Linked DNA regions of Homo sapiens. The protein of the gene in region 2 purifies or fractionates together with the protein of the main gene of each other region. This does not show direct contact. Each region holds a gene or a part of one and is shown on either strand. Other genes may lie near its edges.

The links.
Region 1: the proteins of LRIG1 (region 2) and PON2 purify together in Homo sapiens (affinity purification with mass spectrometry; 3 studies listed by BioGRID and IntAct, with this or other methods). This does not show direct contact.

What each region holds. Positions count from the first base shown.
Region 1 is NC_000007.14:95,425,017-95,432,042, reverse strand, and holds part of PON2 (serum paraoxonase/arylesterase 2), read left to right. Parts: intron 1-7,026. UniProt on the Homo sapiens protein: Capable of hydrolyzing lactones and a number of aromatic carboxylic acid esters. Has antioxidant activity. Is not associated with high density lipoprotein.
Region 2 is NC_000003.12:66,379,021-66,386,046, forward strand, and holds part of LRIG1 (leucine-rich repeats and immunoglobulin-like domains protein 1 isoform 1 precursor), read right to left. Parts: coding exon 6,961-7,026; intron 5,253-6,960; coding exon 4,971-5,252; intron 4,382-4,970; coding exon 3,962-4,381; intron 3,379-3,961; coding exon 3,253-3,378; intron 2,612-3,252; coding exon 2,459-2,611; intron 1,842-2,458; coding exon 1,557-1,841; intron 1,470-1,556; coding exon 1,243-1,469; 3' UTR 1-1,242. UniProt on the Homo sapiens protein: Acts as a feedback negative regulator of signaling by receptor tyrosine kinases, through a mechanism that involves enhancement of receptor ubiquitination and accelerated intracellular degradation.

The DNA.
Region 1 (7,026 bases), on a different chromosome or scaffold from region 2:
GATATGTGGAGCCCCAAATGGGCTGACGTGAGAATGTTGGGGTAGGTGGTGGGTGGCTGGATTTAGCAAAGAAAAATGTAGGCTACCCAGTTAACTTTGAATTTCACATGGATTTTTTTTTTTTTTTTTAGTATAAGCATGAAATACTTATACCATACTTTTAGCATTAAGCGTGGAATTTGGGACATAATTATACTAAAATATCATTCATTGTTTATCTCAAATTAAAATATCACTGGGTACCCTGTATTTTATCATATGTTCGAGTGCCTTCTGTCAGAATTTGGTGACCCTTTGAGTCTGTTTTAAAAAGGAGCATGTTTGGCCGGACACAGTGGCTCACGTCTGTAATCCCAGCACTTTGGGAGGCTGAGGCGGGCAGATCACTAGAGGTCAGGGGTTCAAGACCAGCCTGGCCAACATGGTGAAACCCCGTCTCTAATAAAAATACAAAAATTAGCCAGGTGTGGTGGTGCATCCCTGTAATCCCAGCTACTTGGGAGGCTGAGTCAGGAGAATTGCTTGAACCCCAGAGGTAGAGGTTGCAGTGAGCCAAGATTGAGCCACTGGACTCCAGCCTGGACAACAGAGAAAGACTCCCTCAAAAAAAAAAGAAAAAAAGCATGTTCCCACCTCCCCATAAGGAAAGGCTCTTCAGAGGAAGTTGAAGGAACAGAGGCTTTATGTTTGATTTTTGCTTTAATCTGATGCCTACTGTTTGATTATTCAATATTTAGAGATGGTACTTTGGCAATCAAGTTATTTCTCTCCCCAGGTTGCCCACTTCAATTTTTAGTATAAGGATGTCCCAGAGGGATAAATGCCATCAAAGTTGTCTTTCTTCTTCTGAACTGTAACTGGGATTCCACACCCTCCTTTTCCACCCCTCCCTAGTTGAGCAATAAAGGGGAAAATAACAGTATACAAATATTCCCAGGCCAGTTCCTGGTGTCAAGGTACACAGCCATGGATGAATCATGAGGCTTGAGTGCATCAGAGACCTAAGCGTGGGCAGGAACCCCCAGAGTACCCATGTGAATGTTCTGCTTGCTGCCTCGCACCTTTTATGACAATTCCCACAAGAAGCTATGTGGTCTGTTTCTACTTCTGAAAGAGCAGCCTTTTTCCCTTTTTTTTTTTTTTAAACCACCATCCTTTAAATCATTTATTATGTAACTCTTGTGTGCTGGTCAGTCAGTGTGTCAAAAGTGTAAAAACTTCTTTATTTATTTTTTTAATCTATCTTTTAAAAAATATTTTCTTTCTTTTTTTCTTTTTTCTTCAAGGCAGGTTCTTGCTCTGTCACCCAGGCTGGAGTGCAGCAGCACAATCATAGCTCATTGTAACCCAGAACACCTGGGCTCAAGCAATCCTCCCACCTCAGCCTCCTAAGCAGTGAGGACTATAGGCATGCACCACTACACCTGGCTAATTAAAAAAACATGGCCGGGCACGGTGGCTCATTACTATAATCCCAGCACTTTGGGAGGCTGAGGCGGGTGGATACCTGAGGTCGGGAGTTCAAGACCAGCCTGACCAACATGGTGAAACCCCATCTCTACTAAAAATACAAAATTAGCCAGGCACGGTGGCACATGCCTGTAATCCCAGCTACTCAGGAGGCTGAGGCAGGAGAATCACTTGAACCCGGGAGGCGGAGGTTGCAGTGAGCCATTGCACTCCAGCCTGGCAACAGAGCGAGACTCTGTCTCAAAAAAAAAAAAACAAAAAAATTTTTTTGTAGAGATGGGGGTCTTGCTGTGTTGCCCAGGCTGATCTCAAACTTCTAGCCATAAGTGATCCTACCGCATCAACTTCCCAAAGCACTGGGATTATGGGTATGAGCTACTGAGCCCTGCCAAATTTCTTTATATTAAACCAAAACGTACATTTACTGATATTTGGAAAGAAAGCTCTTTTACTTTTATGCCTTCATCCAGTCTTCATAGATATCTTCCCTTTTACATTATAACTGTAAATACTGAGGTTAGAGAGGTTAACTAGTTAGTTCAACAGAATAATATAAATATTGAATAATATAATTAATGAATAATTAGTGCTGAACCTGTCGCCTCAGCCAGGTCTCCTGATTCCAAATACAGTTTGCCCCAGCTCCCCACAGTCTTCTAGCTTCTCTGCCAGTGGAGCAAATTTTCCCTAGGTTTACAGGCCTAAGCACAGATTCTTAGTTACTTAGTGCAAGTATTGCCAGAGCCCAAGGGGTGAATTCCAAAGGGTTTTTACAAGGCTATACATAAAAGATAAAGCCCTGGCTTGTATATCACTTGCACATAGGAGATAAAGCCCCAGCAGTTGTATGTAAATTTCAAAAGCAGAGAAGTATGGCACAAAGAAACTCCTGATAGTAACACTGTGTTCCCACTTTGCTTAGGGGCATATTGGCACCGTAGCATGGTACACCCTTACTGCTACCTGCCATGAGGCCAGATAATAGCTAGCAGCCCCTGGTCTCATTCTACTCTGGATGGGTACTGCTGTTTCCTGAATGAAAGACACTGAGATTGATTTCATGCTAATGACTGTTGGTTAAGAGTTCATGCTTTCTATTCACAATAGCAAAGACTTGGAACCAACCCAAATGTCCGTCAATGATAGACTGGATTAAGAAAACGTGGCACATATACACCATGGAATACTATGCAGCCATAAAAAAGGATGAGTTCATGTCCTTTGTAGGGACATGGATGAAGCTGGAAACCGTCATTCTTAGCAAACTATTGGAAGGACAGAAAACCAAACACCACATGTTCTCACTTATAGGTGGGAATTGAACAATGAGAACACTTGGATACAGGAAGGGGAACATCACACACCGGGGCCTCTTGTGGGGTAGGGGGAGGGGGGAGGGATAGCATTAGGAGATATACCTAATGTAAATGACGAGTTAATGGGTGCAGCAGACCAACATGGCACATGTATACATATGTAACAAACCTGCACGTTGTGCACATGTACCCTAGAACTTAAAGTATAAAAAAAAAAAAAAGTTCATGCTTTGTGGACAGGTAGCCTGAGTTCATTCATAGCTCTACTATTTACCTGAAACCTTGGACTAATTATTTCACTTTTCTGTGCCCCAGTGTTGTAATCTGTAGGATGGGGTACTGCCTGCTCCACAGTGGGACTATGAGAATGCTTAAAATAATGCCAAGCGCACAGTCAGCTCAATAAATGTCATCTATGTAGACAATGAAATTCAAGCATAATTCCTTAAACCTTTGTGCCATACATCCCTTTGGCAGTCTGGTAAAGCCTTCATTCCTTCTCAGCATCATGTTTTTAAATGAGTAAAATAAAATATATAGGATTACACAGGAAACCAATTAAATACTGCTACCAAGCTATTTAAAAATCTATGATATAATATGCTTTTTAAATTAAACCCTTAAATGGATCTAGAGGTAGGTAAATGTCTAACAGCAGATATTTTGAAGTTGCAATGAATGTAAATGGCACTTTGAGCTATCTACAACTGAAATGCGATAGAAAAGTATCTATAATTTCTATTAGTGACAGTCACAAATACTACTAATAGTATTGTGGTTTGTTGCTTATACTCATCATCAAAGGAAATACTCAATTTGAGTTAAAGGTTTAAATAAAGATGTATTTTTCCCCCATCCAAGTTCATGGATCCCTGAATTCTACCCATGGATTCCTTGGTCACTGGACTCCATAGGGGTCACTTGGGGAATGATTGTGACACCAATGAAGGAAGCCAGCGGATACTGTTTGCTGTATTATACCTACCATAGGCTCGTGATGAGGAAATAATAAAATAAATAACTGTAATGAAAAAGAAAAGAAAGGAAAACAAAAGGAACCTAAAACAGAGAAGGCAAATAGCTTTCCTTTTGAGTGTCAATTTTAACAGACTCCCTGTGGTTGCGAAACAATGTGTCTGAGGCTGGCTCTGGGTTAGAGGGAGAGTGCTGTTATTGATTAGCAATTCCTGCATGACAGCAGAGTGGCAACAGCCATGCATCTCTGACCTGGCACAGTCATAAGCATGTTATAGACATAAAGTGTTAGGGAACAAATAGGCTCTAGCAAAAGTAAAGAGTGTTCCTCCTCTCATATCATCACTTATATGTGTTTATACCATTTATGTTGTATTTTTTACATGAATACTTTTAGATTTATTAATCTAATCCAAAAAGGTTTGTATAGCTTTCTCTATATTAAGAGAAATATATGTATTTCTTAAATACACAAAGTTCTTAAATCTGATGCCAGCGAGGATTGCTTCCAGCCACAAGTAACATATATCAGATTAATAGTAGTTCATTCAAAGAGGGATTTATTTTCCTCACATGAAAAACAGCTCTGTGGGTGACCCAATATAGAGCTTGTTCATTGAGCCAGTGATTATATCAAGGAACTGGGTTCTTCATATATTTTCATTCTTTGATCTCCCCCTATTGACTTTATAGCTGTATCTTTCTCAAGGATGCAGAATGGCTGCCGCAGTCTCAAACACTGCGTGTGTGTTCAAATCATGAAGAAAGGAGATTGAGTGATGCCAGCTAGCTCTCTTCTCGTGACTCTCCTTTGTATCTAGAACACAGTGTCTTTCCCCAAAACCTGGGTCATATGACTACACCTCAATACAGCGGAGTCTGGGAAAGCAAATATTTGCTTTGCCCACCACTACAATAGAAACGACAAGGGAGAAAGAAAGGGGGTTGGGCATGGCGTTAATTTTGTCAGCCGCTAGGGTCTGCCACCCAGAAAACAGAAGTCCACTAACAAGCAGGGAACTGATTGTTCTGCCAGGGAAAAAGTCTGGCAGTTTCCTACTGAAGAAATTTGGAAGTCTTGATGGTCCAGGAAGGATAAAGGCAAAACCTTCATTTTCTTTTATCAAAAAGGAAAGCCAAGAAAAAAATTAGTTAAGTAGAAGTTATGCACAACCCTCATGTAACTCTTCCATGTTAATAGCAGGTAGGCTGCATATGAAAACATGATATTATACAAGAAAACTAGTTGATGAAGATTGCCCTATTTAGCACCAATTACTTACGCAAACCTAAGTTGACTCTGAAACAGGAACCCCATATTAAACTTTTCAAACACATCAGAATATGTTACTTTGAACAGATTTTATTTAATCCAAAGAGATTATCTTTGAAAAAGGTAGATGGTAAACATCGTTATCCCTATTTTTGTATAGTCAAATAGGCATAGTAGTAAGTTGTGTAAAATTGACATCCAAACCAATGCATGATACTAAAACTTGGTGTACAAACAGCAGTTACATCCTATTGCTTTGTATCTACATCTGTTTCTGGAGTCATATAACATTTGTAGAATCTTGGAGGTGTTTTAGGCTCATCCTTATTTTATCCATAAAGAAGACTGACACCTATAGAGATTAACTGACCTGCCAAGGGTCATGGCAGTTTCACTGCTGAGACAAGAACACAGATCCCTTTACTTCTTTCTGAGAAAAGTACAAAGTAGTTTAAAGCAAAAGCTTCCCTGCTTCCAGCACTTCTGGCTAAGTTGCGCCGTGGGAAAATTGTTTTGTCTGATTCAGTTTTCTCATCTTTTAAACTGGAATAATGCTACCTAATTTACAGGGTTGTTTGAAGAATTAAATGAATGCATGGAGGTAAATCACTTAGAACAGCGGTAAATTATACTTTTTTATTATTTATTTCCTTTGACCACCCACAATTATCATCAGTGTCATCCTCATCATCACAATTAAGATTACTACCACATTAGGCTACATAAACTTTTTTTTTCTCTCTCTGTTTTATAATTTCAATTTTATTTTAGATTCAAGGGGTACATGTGCAGGTTTTACATGGGTATATTGTCTGATGCTGAGGTTTGGGGAACAACTGATGCCATCACCCAGGTAGTGAGTATAGTACCCTATAGTTTTTCAGCCCTTGTCTACTCCCTTCCCTTCCCCTTCTAGTAGTCCCCAGTGTCTACCATCGTCATCTTTATGTCCATGTGCACCATTGTTTAGCTCCCAGTTAAAGTGAGAACATGCAGTATTTGGTTTTCTAGCTTATTTTTCCTCTCTTAAATCACTTCTGTGACACGTAGGCCATGAGATTTATTGTATTTTTTAATGCCTTATTTAAAAATTTGTATTATTTAATACATTTAATGCATTATTTTTTATTATATTTAAATATTGATTTATTTGTACTTTTTGCCTTATTGCTATATTGTTTCAAAAAATTTAACATTATTTGAGTTACATGATTTCAAATACATACTGATTAACATTTTAATTAGAAACTTTATGTCTGATATGAATTGCCAAAATGTGTAGTTGGTACAACCTATGAGTCATTCTGGGTTATCTAGAAGAAACTGGTAGCCTGCCCCATACTCCAGAAGCCTTCCCCAGTGTCTAGACCTCAGAAGCTGTCAGGAATATGCACAGGAGAAGGACACATGGCAAATAGCTATTTCGTCTCTTAAATGTATGGTATGTGGGAACCACTGAAAAATGTAAAGTTTCTACAAGGTGCTATTTTTATTATTTATGGCTCTAGAGAACAGAGAAGGTGAAAAATGTGAGAGAGAAGGGAAAGCCAATAGTATGTGGCCTTCAAAACAAAAGATCCCACAGATATTGTCCCAAACTGCTTCCTGGCCCTCTAGAGTGGAGAGGGAGGGGGAAGACATCCTATTAGAGTTCAACATTCTCTTATTATTTCCTTCTTTTAATTTTCTGGGTATACAACAGCAAATAGTTTTGCTGAAGTAGTTACAGAACTAGTTGGTGTTCTCCAACCTTCCTATTCCAATACATACTGTCATGGATGGGTACACTAAAATCTCAGAATTCACTGCTATATCACTCATCCATGTAACCAAAAACCACATGTACCCCCAAAAGCTATTGAAATAAGATAAATACATTCTTATTTAAAAAAATACTGTCATAGGGATGCTACCTTCTTTTCTTTTTTGTTAGTAACTATTTGTGGGATGTCTTTGGTGTGTCAGGCTCTGAGCAATGCCATTTTCTCTTGG
Region 2 (7,026 bases):
AATGTGCTTACCTTTTGAACAGTGATGACACCTGACAGTAATTGTTAACTATTTTCTCAGTAACTCCCTTCAGCTTTTGGCCAAAGGAACATTTGAAGGACCTTGTTTCTATTTAAGTTTTACTAAATGACACATTGGCACTCATAAGATGGTTAGCTACCAGTCTCAAAAGTGCAAATTATACCCAGAACCCAGGTCAAGGGCTGTCCTTTCCAGTCCCAGCTCAGTTTCATCTGTGCGAAGGAATGGCATGGACAGGCCTGCTCTGGGTCCTTAGTAGAAATAAGGTAGCCCTGAAAAGTCAGAACTTCCTCCTTTCTGTCCCCCAAGGCCAATGTAATACTCATTATATTGGCAAAACGAAAACATCAGTATAGAAAAATCCACAGGTACCAACACCAGCAGCCTTTACCTTAATTTAAAAGTCTCAAATAGCAATCGAATGATACTGAGAAGGCCACATTTGCTTTTATCATAAAATAAGAGGAGGAGGAAAGGCAGTGTTTAACTGTTCTGACCTTTTGCTTGTGATGGATTAACAACCCTCATTCTACGCCTTACAGACGGACAGATTCTACGCCTTACAGACAGACAGGACTTAAACCTAAAAGGAAAAGCCATTCACTGCAAGTGTGGATGGCACTTGCACCCCTGGCTCTACAGACAGGGAAGCCTGTTGCAGGGGCATCCACACATGAGCAGTGCTCACCTGAAGCTCCTTCCGGCGCATGTGGAGTCCCACCGCACAGCAGCCTAGGGGTCTATGAAGTGCAATATAAATCCAAGGCCTTCCATCCTTCCCACCCCGCACCAAAAACTCCTGTGAACAAATGTGGTTGTAGCCTCTATAAATTCCAGCCATGCGTTAAGGCACCAGAACTATTTCCCCACCCCCTCCAAAATTAAACAGCAACCTGATACGAAAAATAATATTGTCAAAATTGTATAATTTTTTTCTGTTAACCATGCACTAAAGATTAAAATAGCCTCTGTAAAAGATATATATGAAATCTCTGAAAACTCTTATGTACAATGATATCAAATACTTTTTTTGCCTTTTGTACACAAATCCCCTCTTGCGTTTACTGTGCTTCAGATCCAAGTCCTGTGAGCGACTGATACTCCACATGGGAGTTACAACTATGTACAGATGAGTGACGCTTGAACCCAAGCTTCCTCGCAGCCTCTCCTACCTCTCTTTCCCGTAGAGATTGGTATGACAAGAACTGAGGTAGACAAAACCTAGCTTTTTGGTGCCAACAGCAGTGGCACCCTCTGTTTCCCGGGGAGCTGTCCTGTCAGTGGCGTGGACTCGGGACTGGCGTCACATGCTTTGGGGAGGTGGCCATTGGAAACAAGCAAGTACTGGGCTTCCGCGCGCTCTGGACTGCCTGAAGTTAATGAAGATGCAGGCTGTAGCTCTGTGGAGTCCGGGTGATACAACCTTGCTAAAGTCCAGGAAGAATCCCCTACAAGGAAAGAACGAACCTGTCAGACCCCCACTTGACCGTTTAAGCAGCTCCCAACCCACCTGTTAGAAGACAGTCAAAAGTTACCTTTCCCATCTAGAGATGCCATTGGCTTTTTCTTCACAGCCGTCAGCATTCTATCGTGGTTACTGGGGTAGAGCGACCCTTGGCACTCGGGGCAGGACCCAGCGGCAGTCCTGCTGCACTGGTGATGTGGAGAATGCTCTTGGTCACTCCCACCCGGCTCCGGGCCATTTGGCGCACTTGGCTGTGCGCTGTCTCTGGACACAGGCTGGGGGTGGAAGGCTTGTCCCCTGGAGTAACAGTCCACTTCGGTGTTGCAGTCACTGCATACGACCCGGCCACCGTGTTCTGAAGGACAGCGCCAAAGATGGGTTAGAGTCACTGCTGTGGGAGTCTTCGTCCCCACACAGAGGACAGGCTGCTCAGCTCCACTGTGCAAGGTGAGAACCCTGACTGCAAACACTGTATGCATGCTTCCTCTTTTCCCCAACTATGTCCCCAGAGAAAGGACTGGGCAAACACCAAGTCACTCATGAACTGTGGGGTCTTTCGTGTTTACAGTGAATTTCATAGACAATGTAGTCTTACTGCTTCACGGGGGAAAAGCCATTAGCCTTAGGTACCATGCAGTGTTGGGTCTTTTCAACAATTAGAAATAAGCCTCAAAATAGCCCTGGTGAAAAAGTGCTGACTGAAACTCTATACTTCGTTTGTGCCTTGCCCCTTATTTAAGTTGCTTATACATCTAGAAAATTCATGCTCAGGCTTACCATGGCGTAGATTTATTTAGGAGAAACTATCCTGGAATTAAGAGAGCCAGGCCTGAGCTTCCCCTGTATATACTGAATACCAAATTTGGAGACAGCTGTGGACTAGGAATGTGTCTCCCCCTTTGATGTAGTGACTAGGTCAGCCCAAATTTCCATTTCAGAAAGAAACTACTTCCAATGGGAAGCATCTCATACCCATCTTATGTGGCCCAGGTGTCCCTTCAGCTTTCTCCATCGCTTTCCACGGCTCTTTGTGATACGCAGACCCAGCACAGAGCTTTGGCTGCCTGCAGGCAACGCTGTGAGTGTCGGGCTCTGGAAAGTGGCTTGCATCTCTTGGACACACACCTGCAAGTGGATTCCAACACGATTAGAAACTCTGGGCTTGGTATTTCACAGTAAGCCTTATGAAAGGAATGAGCAAGGCCGCTAGAACAGTCATTTTTTTTAAAAAGTTCTTCAGAGCGGTGGGGCTGCTGGTCTGGCAAGCAGCGTGTTTTCTGCTACTACTTCCCAGCAGGCAGGCTGGCCTTGTGAAATGAGCAGCTGTCTCAGGGTGAGCCTCTACAGTCTCAGGCAAGTGCTCAGAGGCCCCCACCGTTGGAAGTACCTCATCCTGGTGACAGCTTTCCAGTGTAAGACTGGATCACAGAGCAGACCTGGGCACGTTCCCCATGTAAGGAATGGGTTGGCTGGGTTCATGCACCGTAATGCCCTTTCCAGCTGCTACTCCAGGCAAGCCTACTTTATCCTGCCAGGGAGATGCTAAGCCCAATCCAGTGGCTTCCTGAGGGGACAGGACTTTAAAACCTTGCAGAACTCATGAAGACTGGGTCCAAAATAGCAGCCCTTAGTCATACCGCCTTCTACTTCACCAAGTTTGCCCCATCTAATGCCAGGTACCTGCCCTGTAAAGACCTGGAGGCCACCTCCAGCACCCAGAGACACAGTCACAGCAGAGCTCTGCTTCACAGTTACTGAGGCCTTACCATTGCTCTCAATGTGCCCATTGGCCTGAGGGCCACCCTCGGTCCTGACCACGGTTTCTTGTCGGTCAGAAAGGGTCCCCTGAGAAGAGAGGTAGCTTGGAACATCTGGTGGCACGACGGTTTCATCTGCAAGGAGACAGAACAAATAGAACACCAGGGTCTCAGTGACAAGAAATGCAGACACACGTTCACTGTCAAGCTCAGAAAGGGGATCCTCCCAGTGACGACCATCAGCGCTGTGCAGAGAGATGACATGGAGTCCATGTACGCAACAGGCCCTCCCAGAGCCTGCTCAGCTTTACTCTACACCCAGCGTGAAGAGCGCAGCCAGCAGATGCCAGACGCCACAAGAAGTGGAGACCAGTGATGGAAAGCCGGGGCTCACAGAAGTACCGCACTGTTTCAGGAACAACCTACTACGTGGCAGCAGGGCCTGTGCATAGGCGGCCTCTGAGTTAGCAAGGAGAGGGAAAACTGCATGGTGCGTCAGTTACTTGTATTTGTGAGTATTCCTGTTTAAGGTTAAATTTGAGAGTATTCCTGTTTAAGGTTAAGTTCCTCAAAGTTAAAATGGAATTAGTGGGACTAAACCCTCAGGAGTTCTGAACACAGTGCAATTCTTTCAAAAGCCACTGGAACCCGGCCCAGTTCCCCAGCATCACTGCCATTCCTCCCTCCTTGAAAGTCAGCTCCGCTGGCAGGGCCTGACCTGTGTTGGTGACACTGTACTCTTCACTCTTCTTCCTGGTCTGGTAGATGATGCACACCCAGACCAGTGACGTCAGGACGATGCTGCTCACGACAGCAATGGTGAAGATGCCTACCGTGGTCCCATCCTTCCTGCAGCCTGCTGCGGGCAGGACGCTCAGCTGGCTGTGAGCTCGCTCCGTGCCCAGGGTGTTGGACATCTCACAGGTATATCGGCCCGCATCCTCTGCCACCACGTTCTGAACCACCAGGAGCTGGTTGTCAGGGGTCAAGTGGTGCCGCTCAGTGAGGCTCAGCGGGCGGTCCCCCTTGAACCAGGTGATGCGGGGCGGAGGGTTCCCCGTGGCTTTGCATTGGAGGGCCACTGTTTCTCCCACAGATACCACACGGTCTTCCAAGGGGACCACCAAGGATGGGGTCTCTACAAGAGAGCAACAGAGATCTTAGTCATTCTCAGGGCCTCCGTTGCTCTGGCTCTGCCCGGTCTTCTGGACAACGGACAATCCAACATATCAATGAGATGCATCTGAGATTCTGTCTCAGAGTGGCAAGCTTTGGAGAAGACCCTTCAACTCATTGACTGAGTCATCTCCATGCTGGGAGTGGCTTCCACAGGGACAGTGAACCTCTGCTGACAAAAGCCCCTGCTATTCCCTAACTGTCCTGTGTCAGGCCTGTGTCCTTATTCTTGACCAAGCCCACATCCATCCTGTCCAATTCTTAAAATGTTCTGTAGCTCTTGACCAAGCCCACATCCATCCTGTCCAATTCTTAAAATGTTCTGTAGCTAAACCCTATGAAGACTCTTAATTCACCAGCTATCATTTCTTTTAAAGAGATAGAAACACTTGTTTAAGAAAAATTAACTCAACTCAAAAAGCAGCCCCAAATTTCAAACAGGGTCGAAAGGCCCACAACGCATACCACCCCTGGCCACACAGAGCATTTGAGAGTCTCTCTCTCTCGCTCACACACACACACACACACACACAGTAGAGCAATAGGCAAACCTAGGACAGTCAGGGTGGCATTAGCTGAAATAGAACCGGCTGAGTTCTGAGCAGTACAGCTGTAAACCCCTGCGTCATCTATTTTCACATCAGTGATGAAAAACACGTCGTCATCCGGCATGACATGCATGCGTCGCTCACGGGCAGCGGGGAAATCCGTGCCTCCATCCTTCTGCCAGGCAATCTGAGGGTTTGGGTGACCTGTGGCAGCACATTCGAGGCGGGCCATGGTGGTGGTCCGGATGGTTATGTCGTGGGGCGTTTTGGTGAATGATGGCAACACTGGAAAACATACGTATACAGGGTCGGGTTACGGGACAGCTAGATGCAAAACCAGGAAGTCCTCTGGCAAACACCTACCTGTCACTGTGCCCAGTGCCAGTTCACTTCTTTTCTCCCAATGTCTGCCCAGGACCACTCCTGCCACCTGTGAATCAGGAACCCCCAGCTTCTCCCACCACAGTTGGAACACTTCCATCCCATCAGCCTTGCATTGTACACCCTAGGCTGGCTATAGTCCCTTCAAAGCAAAGGCTTTTACTCTACATGGCAGTGCCTATACGGGAGTTGCAGGGGGTGCCCATCCACACTAGGTAGGCCTGATGCTTGCCTGCTTTACCCACCAAGAGAGAGGCTGTGGAGATGGAATTACAGAGGGAAGGTGGGCATGCCTCCACCTTGGGAGAGCAATGGGATGGCTCATCCGTTTGGATGGGTGTTCATGGGATGAATGGGATGGCTCATCCATTTGGATGGTTGTTCACCCAGGCTGTTCCTGCCCACTGCCGTATACCCAGGCAGGAAGCATTCAGCTTGCTAGCTTGCTCAGCCTAAAGATCGATGTCCTGACAGAGTGGGACGCATCCAGCCACGTGTCAGGCACCACCAGAGTTCCTGTCAACGTCAATTTTGGGGAGAGTCTAACAAACAGCTGAGTCTTTCGGAAGCTGTGAGGACTTGGAATAAGCCAAGACAACCCCACTACAGTGTGGTAAAGAAGGTGTTTCGCTGTGATCTGTGGGGGCTTAAAGAGCAAAGCAGATCCACCATTCTGATGATTCTCAAGCCAATTCTTTTTAACTAGAGAGTTAGTAATCAGGATAACCCCATTAGGTTACTGGGGTGGGACAGTAAACTCTTCAAGCTATCTACTCCCCACCCCCCTCCTCCAAACACACAATAACACATGGTCCCCTTGACAAGCTCCAAGGCTGGTTAATGAGTAAAAACCTGTCAACTGCCAGGACACTGTGTCTTTCAGGCCAGGGCTCACACCAGCCTTGCACTCCACAGTCTCTGGAGCAGTAGCTAGCCTCTGACTCCAATGCTGTGCCATCTACTCAAAGAACAGCAGCTTCCCCAGGCTAAGGGGTATTTGGAATTTGGAAGCCAGATCTCTTGGCTTATAGAGGATAAGAACTGGACAAAACAAGGCTTAGCTCTCCACAATTTGACTTAATAACTAGTTTTTGTTTTGTTTTTGAGACAGTCTCACTTTGACACCCAGGCTGGAATGCAGTGGAGTGATCTCGGCTCACTGCAACGTCCACCTCCTGGGTTCAAGCAATTCTTGTGCCTCAGCCTCCCAAGTAGCTGGGATTACAGGCATGTGCCACCACACCTGGCTAATTTTTGTATTTTTAGTAGAGACGGGGTTTCACTATGTTGGCCACACTAGTCTCGAACTCCTGGCTTCAAGTGATCTGCCCACCTCAGTCTCCCAACTGCTGGGATTACAGGCATGAGCCACAGCACCCGGCCAATAACTAGATTTTTAAAACTCACCAAAAACAAGTAACTCATTGTGAATAACCCTTGAAATCTGCAAAACTTGCTCTGGGGCAAACCCAGGCAACAATAGGATTTAACAGTGCCCCACAGAAGCATGTGTGTGTCCTGTCTCAGTCATCTCTACATGGAAAGCTGAAAGGGCAATCAGGAGTGTGCTTTGTAGGATTCTGGTACTATAACAAAGATGGTGTTTCCATACCATTCACGGTGAGCCTGGCCTTATGTGAATAGGTGGAGCCAAAGTGGTTGGTGATGACACATTGGT